2 separate regions of the Homo sapiens genome follow, and region 2 is linked to region 1. A link means that fine-mapping ties the variant in region 1 to the expression of a gene that starts in the linked region. Tissue or cell type: whole blood. Region 1 holds a variant in brackets; the other region holds the start of a gene. All regions are shown on one strand. Distances are from middle to middle.

Region 1 (8,194 bases):
CCATGCTGGTCTCTTTCTATTCCACTAGTTCAGTAAAGAAAGAGGACACACTCTTTTTCCCTCTAATCAGATGGGTAGGGATAGGTTAAGAGATAAGTGAGTCTTGTCTGTAGAGTTCTCTATTCTCAATCATCTATAGCATGCTTGGCCTTATAGCTGTTTAGCTTTTTATAAAGAAATGCTCCCCCAGGTGAGGTGGCTCACGCCTGTAATCCTAGCACATTCGGAGGCCAAGGTGGACGGATCACTTGAGGTCAGGAGTTCGAGACCAGCCTGGCTAATGTGGTGAAACCCTGTCTCTACTAAAAATACAAAAATTAGCTGGGTGTGGTGGTGCACGCCTGTAATCCCAGCTACTCGGGAGGCTAATGCAGGAGAATCACTTGAACCCGGGAGGTGGAGGTTGCAGTGAGCTGAGATGACGCCACTGCACTCCAGCCTGTGTGACAGAGTGAGACTCCATTTCAAAAAAAAAAAAAAAGGTAATGCTGTTTTTTTCTGAATGGCTAAGAAAATGGAGTACAGGTTGACTATTCCTAATCTGAAAATTTGAAACCCAATCCAAAAATTTGAAACCCAAAATGCTCCAAAATCTGAAATCTTTAGAATGCCAACTTGGCACTCAAAGTGCTCATTGGAGCAATTGGATTTCAGGTTTTCAGATTAGGGATGCTTAACTGGTATGTATTCTGCAAATATTCCAAAATTTGAAACACTTGTGGTCCTAAGCATTTCAGATAGCAGATACATGAAATGTGTTGACATTTAGATAATTTTAGTCAATAAAATGTAAAACACAATTACATTATTTGGAAATTTCTGGAATCAATGAATTTTCTCCTTCTGCTAATACCTGCCTAAGTAAAATTAAAGTGATGATTTAATATCAATTTGTTCACAGCTTTGTTTGCTAGCAAAATGCTTTAAGCCTGCCCTTCCATATCTTGACGTGGATATGATGGATATCTGTAAAGAGAATGGAGCCTATGATGCAAAACACTTTTTATGTTACTATTATTATGGAGGGATGATCTATACTGGGCTGAAGAACTTTGAAAGAGCTCTCTACTTTTATGAACAGGTAATCTCTCTAAAAATTAGCTGAGGTTGTTCTGAACTTGTGTGATCAAAAAAGTGCTCCCATAGGTTTGTGGCTAGAGTGGTCTGATCCCAGGGCCTCCGTTTCAGGTGTTGGTCCTTTCAGAGACTACTTCTCTGTGATCATGTAAATAGTGGTAACCTGATCCCTAAGTTGAGGAGCAGCGCCAGTGCATAGAAGAGCACTTGTCTGGGGGTTCTAATCTAGGCTTGCACTTATACCTTATCTGATTTGGAATAAGTTATGACATCTCTTGACCTTTATAGCTTCCTTTGCATATAAGGAAGAGATTGAACTGAGTGATCTTGGTTGTGTCTTATTCTAAAACCATGTGTGGTATTTTGTTAAGTTTTATTTAATCAGTGAAACATTCTCTTGATTCAAAATTTAAAGGGTAGAAAGGAGTACACAGTAAAAGTCCCTCCCACCCTTTCTGTGTCTGTGTAATGAAACATAGTACACAATTTGGTAGAATATTCTGGAGGTTTACTCAGACTCTGAAAAAGAGATACACAATATTGATTAATAAACCACTTTACTTAAGGTAAATTAGTTAGATGTTCGTAAGTTCCTATTTAGTTCATAGCATGTATTAAGTAATAAAGGATATTTAAAACCTTCAGAGAGCTCGGTTTAGTTGGAATTCTAATACATAATACACATGCATACATGTACACACATCCGTGGCTCTGAACCATACCACAATGAGTGGTTGATGTGTCCTGTTGAGGGGACCTGAGGAGGGCCACCATAAGGTGCCAGTAGGCAGAGATGGTGTCATTAAAGCACGTGTCTAGTCAGGTTAAATCTTCAAGGTGGCTTCTCTTTAAGACTACGCATTCGGAAAATTATAAAAATGCACTTCGTAGCCACTGGATGCATTATCATTGCTGTAGCCAAATATAGTTAACTCATGAGCAAACTTGATCTTGAAATATCAGGATGAGTGGGTGTTAAAAAGGTAAGAGGCGTCCGAGTGCGGTGGCTCACGCCTGTAATCCCAGCACTTTGGGAGGCCGAGGCCGGCGGATCACCTGAGGTCGGGAGTTCGAGACCAGCCTGACCAACGTGGAGAAACCCCATCTCTACTAAAAATACAAAATTTAGCTGGGCATGGTGGTGCATGCCTGTAATCCTAGCTACTCAGGAGGCTGAAGCAGGAGAATTGCTTGAACCCAAGAGGCGGAGGTTGCAGTGAGCCGAGATCGTGCCATTGCACTCCAGCTTGGGCAACAAGAGCAAAACTCCATCTCAAAAAAAAAAAAAAAAAAAAGAAAAGGCAAGAGGCTGGGTGAGGTGGCTCACACCTGTAATCCCAGCACACTGGGAGGCCGAGGCAGGCAAATCGCCTGAGGTCAGGAATTCAAGACCAGCCTGGCCAACATGGTGAAAATGTCTCTACTAAAAATGCAAAAATTAGCTGGGCCTGGCAGCAGGCGCCTGTAATCCCAGCTACTCAGGAGACTGAGGCAGGAGAATCTCTTTTTTTTTTTTTTGAAATGGAGTCTTGCTCTGTCGCCCAGGCTGGAGTGCAGTGGCACGATCTCGGCTCACCGCAAGCTCCGCCTCCCGGGTTCACACCATTCTCCTGCCTCAGCCTCGTGACTAGCTGGAACTACAGGTGCCTGCCACCACACCTGGCTAATTTTTTGTATTTTTAGTAGAGATGGGGTTTCACCATGTTAGCCAGGATGGTCTTGATCTCCTGACCTCGTGATCCGCCCGCCTCGGCCTCCCAAATTGCTGGGATTACAGGCATGAGCCAACACGCCCAGCCAGGAGAATCTCTTGAACCAGGAGATGGAGGTTGCAGTGAGCCGGGATTGCGCCACTGCACTCCAGCCTGGGTAACAGAGACTCGTCCTCAAAAATAAAAAGACAAGAAAGTGGCCAGGCGTGGTGGCTCATGCCAGTAATCCTAGCACTTTGGGATGCTGAAGTGGGAGCATTGCTTGAGCTCAGGAGTACAAGACTGAACAACATAGTGAGCAACATAGGAGTCAGCCTGAGCAACATAGTGAGACTCCATTTCTACAAAAAATA[T/A]TTTTTTTTTTGAGACGGAGTCTCGCTTTGTCGCCCAGGCTGGAGTGCAGTGGCGCAATCTCAGCTCACTGCAAGCTCCGCCTCCTGGGTTCACACCCTTCTCCTGCCTCAGCCTCCCAAGTAGCTGGGACTACAGGCGCCCACCACCACACCCGGCTAATTTTTTTGTATTTTTAGTAGAGATGGGGTTTCACTGTGTTAGCCAGGTTGGTCTCGATCCCCTGACCTCGTGATCCACCCACCTCGGCCTCTCAAAGTGCTGGGATTACAGGCATAAGCCACCGCGCCTGGCCTCTACAAAAAATTTTAAAATTAGTCAAGCATGGTGGCCCACTCCTATAGTCCCAGGTACTCAGGAGGCTGAGGCAGGAAGATTGCTTGAACCCAAGGAGTTTGAGGGTACAGTGAGCCATAATTACATCACTGCGCTCCAGCCTAGATGACAGAGCGAGACCCTGTCTCTAAAAAATGCATAAATAAAAATAAAATGAATTCTATCTCAATAAGGCTGTTATAAAAATAATGGGACATTTAAAAAGTATTATTGACTTATAATTAATGTGATACATGTGGTTGATTGTTGTTTGCTACTGTGGTATGTTCTCTTTACAGCAAGCATTCTTCTCTTGCCTAGGCTATAACTACTCCTGCCATGGCGGTCAGTCATATCATGTTGGAATCATATAAAAAGTATATTTTAGTGTCTTTGATATTACTTGGCAAAGTACAACAGCTACCAAAATATACATCTCAAATTGTGGGTAGATTCATTAAGGTAAGTTTTTTACATAAAACTGATTTCTTACGTGAGCATGTTGAGTATATAAAGAAATTGCAATGATACAGTTCTGTAACTTCGTTTTATACTGATTTAGCTCTCCTAGCAGCTTCAGGTGAGCAGACATTTATTGAATGTCTGCTACACATTCTCATTACCTGATTGGAATGGAATATTTCTCAGGAACCCGTTTTCAAACTTGTGCTCTAGATACTTACAGCTATAGATGTTTAAGCTCCTATAACAGTTGATTTTTTTTTTTTTCCCTAGAGACAGAGTCTCGCTATGTTGGCCAGGTTGGTGTTGAACTCCTGGCCTCAAGCAGTCCTTCTGCGTCTGCCTCCCAGAGTGCTGGGATTACAGGTGTGTGCCACTGAGCCTGGCCTTTATTTTGTTTTGTTATATTTTTCATTTTATTTATTTATTTATTTATTTAGAAATGGAGTTTTGCTCTTGTCACCAAAGCTGGAGTGCAGTGGCGTGATCTCAGCTCACTGCAACCTCTGCCTCCCGGGTTCAAGCGATTCTCCTGCCTTAGCCTCCCGAGTAGCTGGGACTACAGGTGTGTGCCACCATGCCCAGCTAATTTTTTGTATTTTTAGTGGAGATGTGGTTTCACCGTGTTAGCCAGGATTGTCTCGATCTCTTGACCTCGTGATCCACCCGCCTCGGCCTCCCAAAGTGCTGGGATTACAGGCGTGAGCCACCATGCCCGGCCCTGTCTTCCTTCTTGCTAGCAGAAGTAGCAGATTGTCCTGTTGCATCTGGTGAGGTGTGAGAAAGAGAGAGGGAGAGTTGGGAATGATGAATGTTTTGACTCCTTTCTTCTCTATATGATTTATCAGTAGAAAAACAGAAGCACTGATGAAGACGTGTGCCTTCACTAAATTCAGTGGGTTTTCACCTGCTGTGTTATTACTTGGTCTGTAGTACAAAATTTTGTGGAAAATGAATTACTCCATAGTGACTTTCTATCCCTGGTCTTAAAAACCAGGCATTTGCTTTGGGTAAATTATAATTTGTAGGGTAACAGTGTGTAGTTACCTGACAATATGGGATATACTTGCTTAAAAAATAGTATGTAAGTGTGTTTTTGCTTCCTATACACATTTGAGTCTTCTGAAGTTTGTTTGTTTGTTTTTGGTTTTTTTTTTTTTTTTGAGACGGAGTTTTGCTTTGTTGCCCAGGCTGGAGTGCAGTGGCACGATCTTGGCTCACTGCAACCTCCACCTCCTGGGTTCAAGCGATTCTCTTGCCTCAGCCTCCCAAGTAGCTGGGATTACAGGCATGTGCTATCACGCTCAGTTAATTTTGTATTTTTAGTAGAGACGGGGTTTCTTCATGTTGGTCAGGCTGGTGTTTAACCCCTGACCCCAGGTGATTTGTCCGCCTCGGCCTCCCAAAGTGTTGAGATTACAGGCGTGAGTCCCCACACCTGGCCTCTTCTGAAGTTTTAATCTGAATTTTTTCCCTCCTTTGCATCTTTAGCCTCTTAGCAATGCATACCACGAGTTAGCACAAGTGTATTCAACCAACAACCCCTCAGAACTCCGAAACCTGGTGAATAAGCACAGTGAAACCTTCACTCGCGATAACAACATGGGGCTGGTGAAGCAATGCTTGTCATCTCTTTATAAGAAGAATATTCAGAGGCTAACAAAGGTGAGGAAAGTGCCACCTTCACAGGGCAGCTCCTGACCCCCTGGGGGCCATGTTTCCCTTTCTCTCCCTTTTCAGAGCTGAGGAAGCAGGTACAGGGATAAAGCATGGCAGGATTTCTGTGCTGAGAGAGAACTCTCTTGTGATTGGCTTCTTAGAAAGAATTTGATGTATACCTTTGGTCTTTTCAGGGCTAGAGCAGGGTATTTGGAGCAGGTGAAGAGGAAGAAAGGTAGGAGACAAGGCTACATTGGGAGACAGTGAAAGGCAGCCTCAGAGAGGTCAGCAGCTCCAGCAGGGCAGATGAGGGATGCTAATGATGCAGACCTCAGTGCACTGTCACCAGCCTTGCAACCTGTCTGTTCTGTCTGTGCTGATCTCTATTAGAACATTTTTTTTTTTTCTCTCTTGACACAGTGCCTTGCTCTGTTGCCCAGGCTGGTGTGCAGTGGCGTGATTTCGGCTCATTGCACCCTCTGCCTCCTGAGCTCAAGTGATCTGCCCACCTCAGCCTCCCAAGCAGCTGGGACCACAGGTGTGAGCCACCACGCCCAGCTAATTTTTGTATTTTTTGTATAGACAAGGTTTTGCTATGTTGGCCAGGCGGTCTCGAACCCCTGTGCTCATGTGATCCACCTGCCTTGGCCTCCCAAACTGCTGGGATTACAGACATGAACCACCGCACCCAGCCAATGAGAACACCTTATGTGAACATAGTACTACTCGGACATTACCATTTAGGCCAGGGTTGTACAAACTTTGTGCAATTGACTTCTAGGATGTAAGCCAATTATATAATTTTTATTTTCTTCTAGGATGTAAGCCAATTCTATAATTTTTATTGTCAAGATGAAAATAACCTGCTAGGTTTTGACTATAGAAAATATGCTTAATGTCAAACGTTCAAACAGTACAGAAAAATAATGAAAAATGAAATTTTTTGTGTTTTAGGAAGGTATAGGCTGCAAGTTACAGGAATCCTGTAGCTCAACAAATAGAGGATTGCTTTTTTCTCTTGGGAAGTCTGGCCAGATATGCATAGTTCACAGCTGCTGAGAACACAGTGCATCTGTTCCTGTGCACATCCTTTGCCTTGTGTCAGCCATGGTGATGCATGGTTGGGGACGAGCCAAGGAACCAGAATAGGGTAGCTGTTTTTTTGCTAGGCTACCCAGCAATGGAAAAGGCTGATGGATTTGGCTACGTGAGGACTTAGGGGAGAGGTGACTTCCCCTAGCCCAATGGAGAAGCTAGAGAAGAGAGGTGGGTCGGGGTGGCCGTTGAGGTGGGCAGACCTCATACAAGGATAAAGGATCCTAAGGAGAAGAGGAAGGAAGGTGAGGAGAGGGTCAATGGGCAAGAAAAAGAATCCTTCCAAATACTCTAGAAAGACTAGCCATAGCTTCTAGAATAGAAGGAAATCAGTAGTGAATTTGTAAAAAGTTAATTTTTATGAGAGAAAAATGAAGAACGTGAAAGAGAAATCAAGTCAAAGATCAAAACCAGTGTAACTTGTGAGCCAGAAAAACCAGCTTGACCTACAGGTTTAAAAGACCAGGATCTAAGAGACTTAAATAACAAGCAGCCTAATTCTCTCCATAAAATTTTCTTTTTGGCCCAAGTGCCAACAGAACCATTCTAAGTAAATTTCTGTCTTTTGCCATCAAGAGGTAGCCATTAAAAAACAGCTGCCATTAAAAACACAAACTCTGTTTGTGACTAGTAATTGAAGTTTAGATAAAAGAACCCAAATGCTAACAAACATAAAAGATAGTACATGTTACAAAAGATGTTAAATTGCAAAATAGCAAATGAAAATTAAATAACGGTTTCAAAAATTAGCTGGGCGTGGTGGCACATACCTGTAATCCCAGCTACTTGGAAGGCTGAGGCAGGAGAATCATTTGAACCCAGGAGATAGAGGTTGCAGTGAGCCGAGATTGCACCACTGCACTCCAGTCTGGGGGACAAAGTGAGACTCCGTCTCAAAAAAAATTTTTTTTTGATCAAACAGGAAGAGTCTCAACTCGAAATGGTCTTTCCAGGGCTGGGGTAGTGACTCACAAAGTCATCAAGGTCCTGGGTCCTTCGTATGTTGACACGAAGTGGTGGATTGTGGTACACTGAGCTCACAAGCACTGCCTGCCAGAGGGACCTGGGGAGGGCTACCATAAGGTATGGTGGGCAGGAACCGTGTCTTTAAAGGACATAGCTAGTCAGAAGGTTACATCTGTGATAGTGGCTGCTCCATTTTTGGCATGATGTCCCAGTGCTAAAATGAAAAGAACGGGGAAACATCAAAGGATTTTTCTAGCCAAGTTTTTCTTACTAGAAAATCCAAAGAAGTCTCAACAGGTAGACTGTATCAGTAGGTGATGGCATGGCTGGGATGGAAGGCAGCTGGGGATGGGTTAAATCTGCCACCTCTCCCATTGAAATATTACTTTGTGTTAACATTTTAGTAGATGTTTTTCTTTTTCTTTTTCTTTTTCTTTTTTTTTTTTTTTGAGACGGAGTCTTGCTCTGTCTCCCAGGCTGGAGTGCAGTGGCTCGATCTCGGCTCACTGCAAGCTCCACCTCCCGGGTTCACGCCATTCTCCTGCCTCAGCCTCCCG
Region 2 (8,173 bases), 24 kb after region 1:
TGGCACCTGCCTGTAGTCCCAGCTACTCGGGAGGCTGAGGCAGAAGAATCACTTGAATCCCGGAGGCGGAGCTTGCAGTGAGCCAAGATCGCACCACTGCGCTCCAGCCTGGGTGACAGAGCGAGACTCCATCTCAAAAAAAACAAAACAAAAAACACAAAACAAAATATGAAGTTTTGGGTTTGTAAGTCCTAAGTTTCTGGGTTCCAACCTGAATTGGTACCCACTTTGTGGAAGGTTATGTTATTTGGACCTAAGTCTGAGCAGTTGCAAAGGGGCCAGAGAAAATAAATGACTAGGTAAATCAGGTATCTGTGAATAAGAAAATGTGATGGCTATCTTTTTAAGTAACTGAATTACTTAATGATAGTGAACAAAGAAAATCCTATCTGTATCCTTTCCTAACATCAAAGGCTGAAATCAGAGAACTTTAATTGCAAAAAGCATTTAATAAGTCTGAATCCATAGGCTGGCTCTATAGTTGATTGTTAGACGAAAATGTCAACACATGGTATTTAATAGGCACCTAGTAGTAGATTAAAACACAAAAGGCATAGCAGATGAATTCTAATTAGTGGAGAGAGGTTAATTTTTAAAAGCTTACAGAAATTGCTATGGTAAGAAATATTAAATTAATCCTAATGGCCTTTATTGAACCACTAATAACTCATACCTCGCAACTGACTGGATGCCTTATGTGCAGAGTTGATTGTCTAATTACCTAAAACCTGAACTTAGAAACTGTGCATGGGCTAGGCTGGGCGCAGTGGCTCACGCCTGTAATCCCAGCACTTTGGGAGGCCGAGGCAGGCAGATCGAGAGCATCCTGGCTAACACAGTGAAACCCCGTCTCTACTAAAGATACAAAAAATTAGCTGGGCCTGGTGGCAGACGCCTGTAGTCCCAGCTACTCAGGAGACTGAGGCAGGAGAATGGCATGAACCCTGGGGGCAGAGCTTTCAGTGAGCGGACATGGCGCCACTGCACTCCAGCCTGGGCAACAGAGCAAGACTCCGTCTCAAAAAAGAAAAAAAAAAAAAAAAAGAGAAAGAAAGAAATTGTGCATGGGCTGGGTGCAGTGGCTCACGCCTGTTATCCCAGCACTTTGGGAGGGCAGATCACAAGGTCAGCAGTTCGAGACCAGCCTGACCAACATGGTGAAACCCGTCTCTACTAAAAATACAAAAATTAGCTGAGCCTGGTGGCATGCGCCTGTAGTCCCAGTTACTCGGGAGGCTGAGGCAGGAGAAGTGCTTGAACCCGGGAGGGGGAGGTTGCAGTGAGCGAAGATCACGCCACTGTACTCCAACCTAGCGACAGAGTGAGACTCCGTCTCAAAAAAAAAAAAAAAAGAAATTGTGCATTTATCTCACCTTCTGAAATGTTACTCATTGCTTGCTGCCTTTCAGCAGCTGGCCAGACTCCTAAACTGTTCAAAACATCTAAAAACGGAATGTTTTCTCAGTTGCTGGAAGAAACAAAAACTTAGATCATTATTTTTATAACAGGGAATCAATTATAGTAACTTGAAAATATGAGATGTGATTAAAAATATTAAATTGAAATGCTTACAAATGAAATACACCCCTTCTTCCTGAAACTGGAAACTAAGAGTCATTGACATGTGGTTTGACTGAAAGATAAAGCCCAGCTGTATCCTACAGCTACATCAGAGCCCCTGTGGCTAAGGGTACATATAAAAAACTCTAAAACAAATTTCTGAATAAGATGTGACTTTTCCCTGCCACTTGGCTCTATGGTCCTGGCAACTGATGCCTTGGAAGTGATTGATCAGTTTGGATACTCAGCTATAATGAAGCCTCTTGGTTTAGCAGTAGTAAGAAGGCAGAAAAGCATCAAAAAACCTTAATTCTGATTGAGCCTATTTCAGTGGTGGAAAAAAATCTTAATTCTGATTGAGCCTGTTTCAGTGGTGGAAAAAACACATTCTGGATTGTATGCATGCCAGGCAGTAACATATCCAGAGCTTCTGGAATCATTTCATACAATTTCCATTATGGGATAGAAGCTTTGAGATTAGCATTGCATTTCATTTGGTTGTGAATTGTTGAACATTATTGGTATCTGTGCTTTCTGAACATTACTGCTGAGTTTCAATTATCTTTCCCATGAGAATGGGCACATTTTCCGACTTCTAAGATGTCCCTTTTGTTGCATGACCTTGAAAGTTTTTATACCCCATGAGAGCCCAATTTAAATAACCTTTGGTACAATTCACTGAGGCAAAGATTTGGCAGTTGTTAATTTTTTTTTTAAAGATTTATAGGTTTATTTAAGAAAGTACCTCCAAAAGAGGTAGGTGGCTGAAGCCAGTGGTGTTGGGAAAGATGTTAATGGCCTAAATTGAGCCCAGGTGTGGTAAATGCACATTGACTTTTACTGAAAATACACTAGTTGAATAACCTTCCGCCATTAGCCTATCACCATGGAAATAAGGATAATCTGAGCAAGGTGGTGAACTCCACTAACAAACTGAAAAAGGTAATTCCTGGAATTAAAGTTACAAGGTGAAAAAAACCTTGTTCTTGACTTAAAAATCTCATTAACAAACATTAGTTTCAAGAACTTGAACCCGGGAGGTGGAGGTAGCAGTGAGCCGAGATCGCGCCACTGCACTCCAGCCTGGGAGACATAGCAAGACTCCGTCTCTAAAATAAAATAAAATAAAATCACCCTGTAACTTACTACCTCCTCAGAAATTAAGTTTGCGCTGTCCAACAGCAAGAGGAATTCGCTTGATAAGAATAATTAAACACATAAAGGCAATGCCTAACCTCGTAACGCCACCCCATATTCCTTAATCTTTACCAAGCCACTATAAGACGGCAGAAAACACAAGCTGCACTTTCGTTCTTTTCTCGTGTCCCGTTTTCAACAGACCATGGATTTTTTTTTTTTTTTTTAGATGGAGTCTCGCTCTGTGCCAGGCTGGAGTGCAGTGGCACGATCTCAGCTCACTGCAACCTCTGCCTCCCGGGTTTAAGCAATTCTCCTGCCTCAGCCACCAGAGTAGCTGGGACTACAGGCGTGTGCCACCACGCCCAGCTAATTTTTTTTGTATTCTTAGTAGAGAGGGGGTTTCACCTGTTGGCCAGGATGGTCTCCATCTCTTTACCTCGTAATCCGCCCACCTCGGCCTCCCAAAGTGTTGGGATATTATAGGCGTGAGCCACCGCGCCCGACCAGAACATGGAAATTTAAAGAGAAAAAAATAAGTGACTTCTGATTTCAAAAACACAACCACCCACTTTTCTATTCTATTCCTGGTGAGCACATTCTGGAGACTCTGCGGCAACCATAGCCTCGGCCGCGGCGGAAGGCTCCGGGGCGGCCACACCTCAGGGGGCAGCCACACCTCAGGGGGCAGCGCGCACAGGCGGGTCAGGCTCTGATTCCCATCTCTCTCCGGTCTTCACTGGAAGGACCCACACTACATCACAAACTAATGGCTTTACAATTAACTTCTAAGTAGCTAAATTTAGTAATGGGCGCTCTAGTTTTAAAAAATATTATTCAGGCCGGGCGCGGTGGCTCACGCCTGTAATCCCAGCACTTTGGGAGGCCGAGGCTGGTGGATCACCTGAGGTTAGGAGTTCAAGACCAGCCTGGCCAAAAGGGTGAAAACCCGTCTCTGCAAAAATACAAAAAATTAGCCAGGCGTGGTGGCGGACGCCTGTAGTCCCCAGCTACTCGGGAGGCTGAGGCAGGAGAATCGCTTGAACCCGGGAAGCGGAGGTTGCAGTAAGGCGAGGTCGCGCCACTGGACTCCAGCCTGGGCAACAAGAGCGAAAGCGAAACTCTGTCTCAAAAAAAGAATATTATTCAAAAACTGATTTTCACATTTTTAAAAAAGACCCACTGAGGGAGGAAGACCGAATCCCACACATGCGCGCGCACAGCGGTTCCGAGTTCTGCAACCAACCTCCCACGGGCGCCGCGCCTTCTCCGCGTCACGTGACGGCCGTCTCCCGCACCTTCCATACTCTCAATGTAGGGAGAGGACGGGTTCCATCAGCAATTTAATAAAAACCATTGGTGAAGCAAAAAAAAAAAGCCTGCCAACCTCTTATAACGTTTTTTCTTTATTTTTCTCTTTTATGTGGACAGGAAGCCTTAGGTTGGCTATATTTACCCTCAAATCTCTTTTTAAAATGATTTTTAAGTTTCAGCATACTCCCGCGCTTAATGAAATGGTTTCCCCCAGCATCCCCAGCTGGTGCGGTCTGAACCATTCGGAACTTCCCAGAGGGGGGCACCGGAATAGGGGCGGTGGAAAAGGGTAATTGTCGGGCAGCGGCCCCTGCTTCCCAGTCAGACCTCGGAGTTGTAGGACTCGGACTGTGTTCCTGGGCTTGCGAGAGCTAGGGAGGCCCGGCTCTCCTCGCGGTGCAGGACGCGCTCGGACGGCTCCCGCACCCCCACCGCAGTGTTGGGTGGTGGTACGGCTCAGGGAGTCACGCGCCTGGGTGTCGGCGGGGCTGCGGGACCGCGAGTGAGTGTGGTCGCTCCTGGTTCTGCCAGCTCCCCTGAGAGCCTGAACCCGGGCTTGAGAGCCTCGCCACCCCGGGTGACATCCCTGCCGTGGGCTTGGGGGCTCTGGGTGTGATTCCGCCGGTCCGGGTCCCGCAGCGACCACCTACCCAGCGCAGTCAGGGGCGGGGCTGGGACCCAGAGCGGGACCCCGGCTGCCGAGTCCAGGTGTCCCGCGGGCCTCGATTTGGGGAGCAGGTAGGCGGGGGTCTGAGGGGTTGGCGGAGGGGCATGTCCGAGTTTTCGTTGGTCCCAGGTGGACGAGTAATGGGGGAGGGTTTAGGGCCAGAGTCCAGGGCGTCGCCGAGACCCTGAGATTTGAAGATAGGTTGGGGGCACGCCCATTAACCAAGTCTATGGGGATGAGGACTGTGATCTCATTTGATGTTGCCATGAAACGGGACTGTTTGCCTTCCCTTCTCCCAGGTTTTGTCTTCGCTCTGTTTGGAGGAGAGGGTGTGTGTCATCCTCTTCTCCCAGTTTGGCGTTCAGGAGGGTCCTCTGATGCGCTAATAGGGTAGCACCGTGTCCTCCAGGGAGGGTGGAAGACCGCGCTTCTCTCCAGTTGAGAGTACTGTCAGTCGCGTCCTTGTCTCCTGGAAAGAATGGATTGGCTTGTGGATTGAAGTCCAAGGTGTGGTCACTAGCAGTCTCTTCAAGTGGGGACACAGGGCAAGGAGGAGCTTGCTGGAAGTAGGTTCTGGCTCTCTAGCCTTTGGCCACAGCCAGTTTAGTGCCAGATTATCACCGTGGTCATCAAGTAATTGAGTAATAGTGGCAGGTGACACTGCGTTTGCCCTTCTAGTGTCCTATGTCAGGGAGCTCTGTGAATGGAAATCCAGGGAAACGGTGGAAATAGAGCCACAGTGAGAGTGGATCTGAACTGGCAGTCATCCCCTGCAGAACTTTTCACCCTGGGCTTGTTGGGATCCCAGCTGCTAACTTAATGAGGCTCCCCAGTGGGAGACTAGTTATAGAAGCTGTGTGTCCACTGCTGGTTAAGATCCGTTATAGTGCTTTGTTTATTTAGAGTGCCCTTACTTAGTGGCCTCTTTAATTCTCCACGGTGCTATGAGAACACCATAGGAAGTAGGGTTGAAATAGGGCCAGGGCGCACCACGGGTGGTGGTGAGGTCACTGTCCAGGTCTGGGACTCAGCCATTGTGGGAGGGGGACATGAACAGACACTCTACCACATCAGGGAATTTGAATACTGTCTTTGGATATGTTGATGAAGAGACTGTCAGCCAGGGCATTTCGGCTTCCTATGTGGGTTCTGGAAAGCTTGTTGGAAACAGACTCGTGAGACACACTCAAACCAGTTTGTTTTCTTCAGCAAACACCTGGTAGAGATTGGAATTGAACAGTGAGTGAAGAATGACCTCACGCTGCCCAGAATTCTGATTCCATGTGTAATGCGAATTCTGAGAGGCCTCTGTTTCTCAGCTTTTGGGTGGTATTCAGAGAGGTCTAGTAACACTTGGTGTCACCTGGCTGGTGAGGGCAGGCTCCGGTGACCGCAAAGCTAAGTGCTCTGTAGGGCACCTCCCTCTCTTTCAGGGGCTGCCTGGGCCTCTGGTGCACATGATCCATGGAGTCAGAGTCAGAGCTCTCGTCTGACAAGTGCTTTTGCTTTCTTTCTTTCTTTCTTTCTTTTTTGGAGACAGAATCTCATTCTGTCGCCCAGGCTGGAGTGCAGTGATGCGATCTCGGCTCACTGCCACCTCCGCTTCCAGGCTCAAACGATTCTCCTGCCTCAGCCTCCTGAGTAGCTGGCACTACAGGCACGTGCCACCAGGCCTGGCTAATTTTCGTATTTTGTATTTTTTGAAATGGAGTTTTACTCTTATTGCCCAGGCTGGAGTGCAATGGTGCGATCTCAGCTCACTGCAACCTCCGTCTCCCAGGTTCAAGCAATTCTCCTGCCTCAGATTCCCCAGTAGCTGGGATTACAGGCATGCACCACCACCATGCCTGGCTTTTTTTTTTTTTTTTTTTTTGAAATGGAGTCTTGCTCTGTGGCCCAGGCTGGAGTGCAGTGGTGCGATCAGCTCACTGCAAGCTGTGCCTCCTGGGTTCACGCCATTCTCCTCCCTCGGCCTCCCCAGTAGCTGGGGCTACAGGCCCCCGCCACCATGCCCAGCTAATTTTTTGTATTTTTTAGTAGAGACGGGGTTTCACTGTGTTAGCCAGGATGGTCTCAATCTCCTGACCTCGTGATCTGCCCACCTCGGCCTCCCAAAGTGCTGGGATTACAGGCGTGAGCCACCGCACCCAGCCTAATTTTTGTATTTTTAGTAGAGATGGGGTTTCAATATGTTGGCCAGGCTGGTCTCGAACTCCTGACCTCGTGGTCCGCCTGCCTCGGCCTCCCAAAGTGCTGGGATTACAAGCATGAGCCACCACACCCGGCAATTTTTCTATTTTTAGTAGAGACAGGGTTTCACCATGTTAGCCTGGCTGGTCACAAACTCCTGACCTTAGGTGATCTGCCCTCCTTGGCCTCCCAAAGTGCTGGGATTACAGGCTTAAGCCACTGCACCCAGCGAGTGCTTTTCATTAAAAGGAAAAACGAATAAGAGTAGCCCATGTTTTGGCCAGACATGGTGGCTTATGCCTGTAATCCCAGCACTTTGGGAGGCCGAGGAGGCGGGAGAATCACCTGAGGTCAGGAGTTCAAGACCAGCCTGGCTAACATGGCGAAACCCCATCTCTACTAAAAATACAAAAGTTGGCTGGTCCTGGTGGCGCACGGCCATAATTCCAGCTACTCGGGAAGCTGAGGCAGGAGAATTGCTTGAACCTGGGAGGCGGAGGTGGCAGTGATCCGAGATTGCTGCACTGCACTCCAGCCTGGGCAACAGAATGAGACCCTTCCGCAAAAAAAAAAACAAACCAAAAAAAAACAAAACAGTGTAGCCCATGTTGGCTCTGGGTGCTGGGAAGTGGCTTGTCAGCGTTGCCTCTGGTTTCCCTCTCCTGCTTGAGAAGGAAACTGCCAGGCCTATGGCCTGAAAAGTAAGTTGGTGTGATGTAGATGCTGCCAGAGCACCCCCTTATAACCAAGAGTAAGAAAGATGGGGACTTGGCTGGATGCAGTGGCTCATGCCTGTAATCCTAGCACTTAGGGAGGCTGAGGTAGGTGGATCACCTGAGGTCGGGAGTTCGAGACCAGCCTGGCCAACATGGTGAAACTCTGTCTCTACTAAAATACAAAAATTAGCCAGGTGTGGTGGCAGACACCTGTAATCCCAGCTACTCAGGAGGCTGAGGCAGGAGAATCACTTAAACCTGGGAGGCAGAGGTTGCAGTGAGCTGAGATCACGCCATTGCACTCCAGCCTGGGTGACAAGAGTGAAACTTGGTCTCAAAAAAAAAAAAAAAAAAAAAAAAGGAAAGATGGGAACTTGCAGCCTTGACCTCCCAGGCTGAAGTGACCTCCCAACTTAGTCCCCCAAGTAACTTGGACTAGAGGCATGCCCGGCTAATTTTTTTTTTTTTTTTTTTTTTTGAGATGGAGTCTTGCTGTGTCGCCCAGGCTGGAGTGCAGTGCCGTGATCTTGGCTCACTGCAAGCTCTGCGTCTCAGGTTCACGCCATTCTCCTGCCTCAGCCTCCCGAGT

Evidence for each region. PIP is the estimated chance that this variant, and not a neighbour inherited with it, causes the effect.
Region 2: it holds the start of FLCN, and the variant in region 1 is fine-mapped to the expression of FLCN in whole blood (TOPMed, PIP above 0.99).

Annotation. Positions count from the first base shown.
Region 1 is chr17:17,257,689-17,265,882 of GRCh38, reverse strand. It overlaps COPS3 (COP9 signalosome subunit 3), which reads left to right. Exons shown (of 12, transcript NM_003653.4): 6 at 902-1,081; 7 at 3,777-3,917; 8 at 5,409-5,582. Among named protein-coding and RNA genes, the nearest start is that of COPS3, 19 kb to the left of the region's middle. The variant T/A (reference allele first, on the strand shown) is at 3,143.
Region 2 is chr17:17,233,488-17,241,660 of GRCh38, reverse strand. It overlaps FLCN (folliculin), which reads left to right and starts at 4,493. Exons shown (of 14, transcript NM_144997.7): 1 at 4,493-4,749. RefSeq lists a silencer at 3,547-3,732 and an enhancer at 4,167-4,276.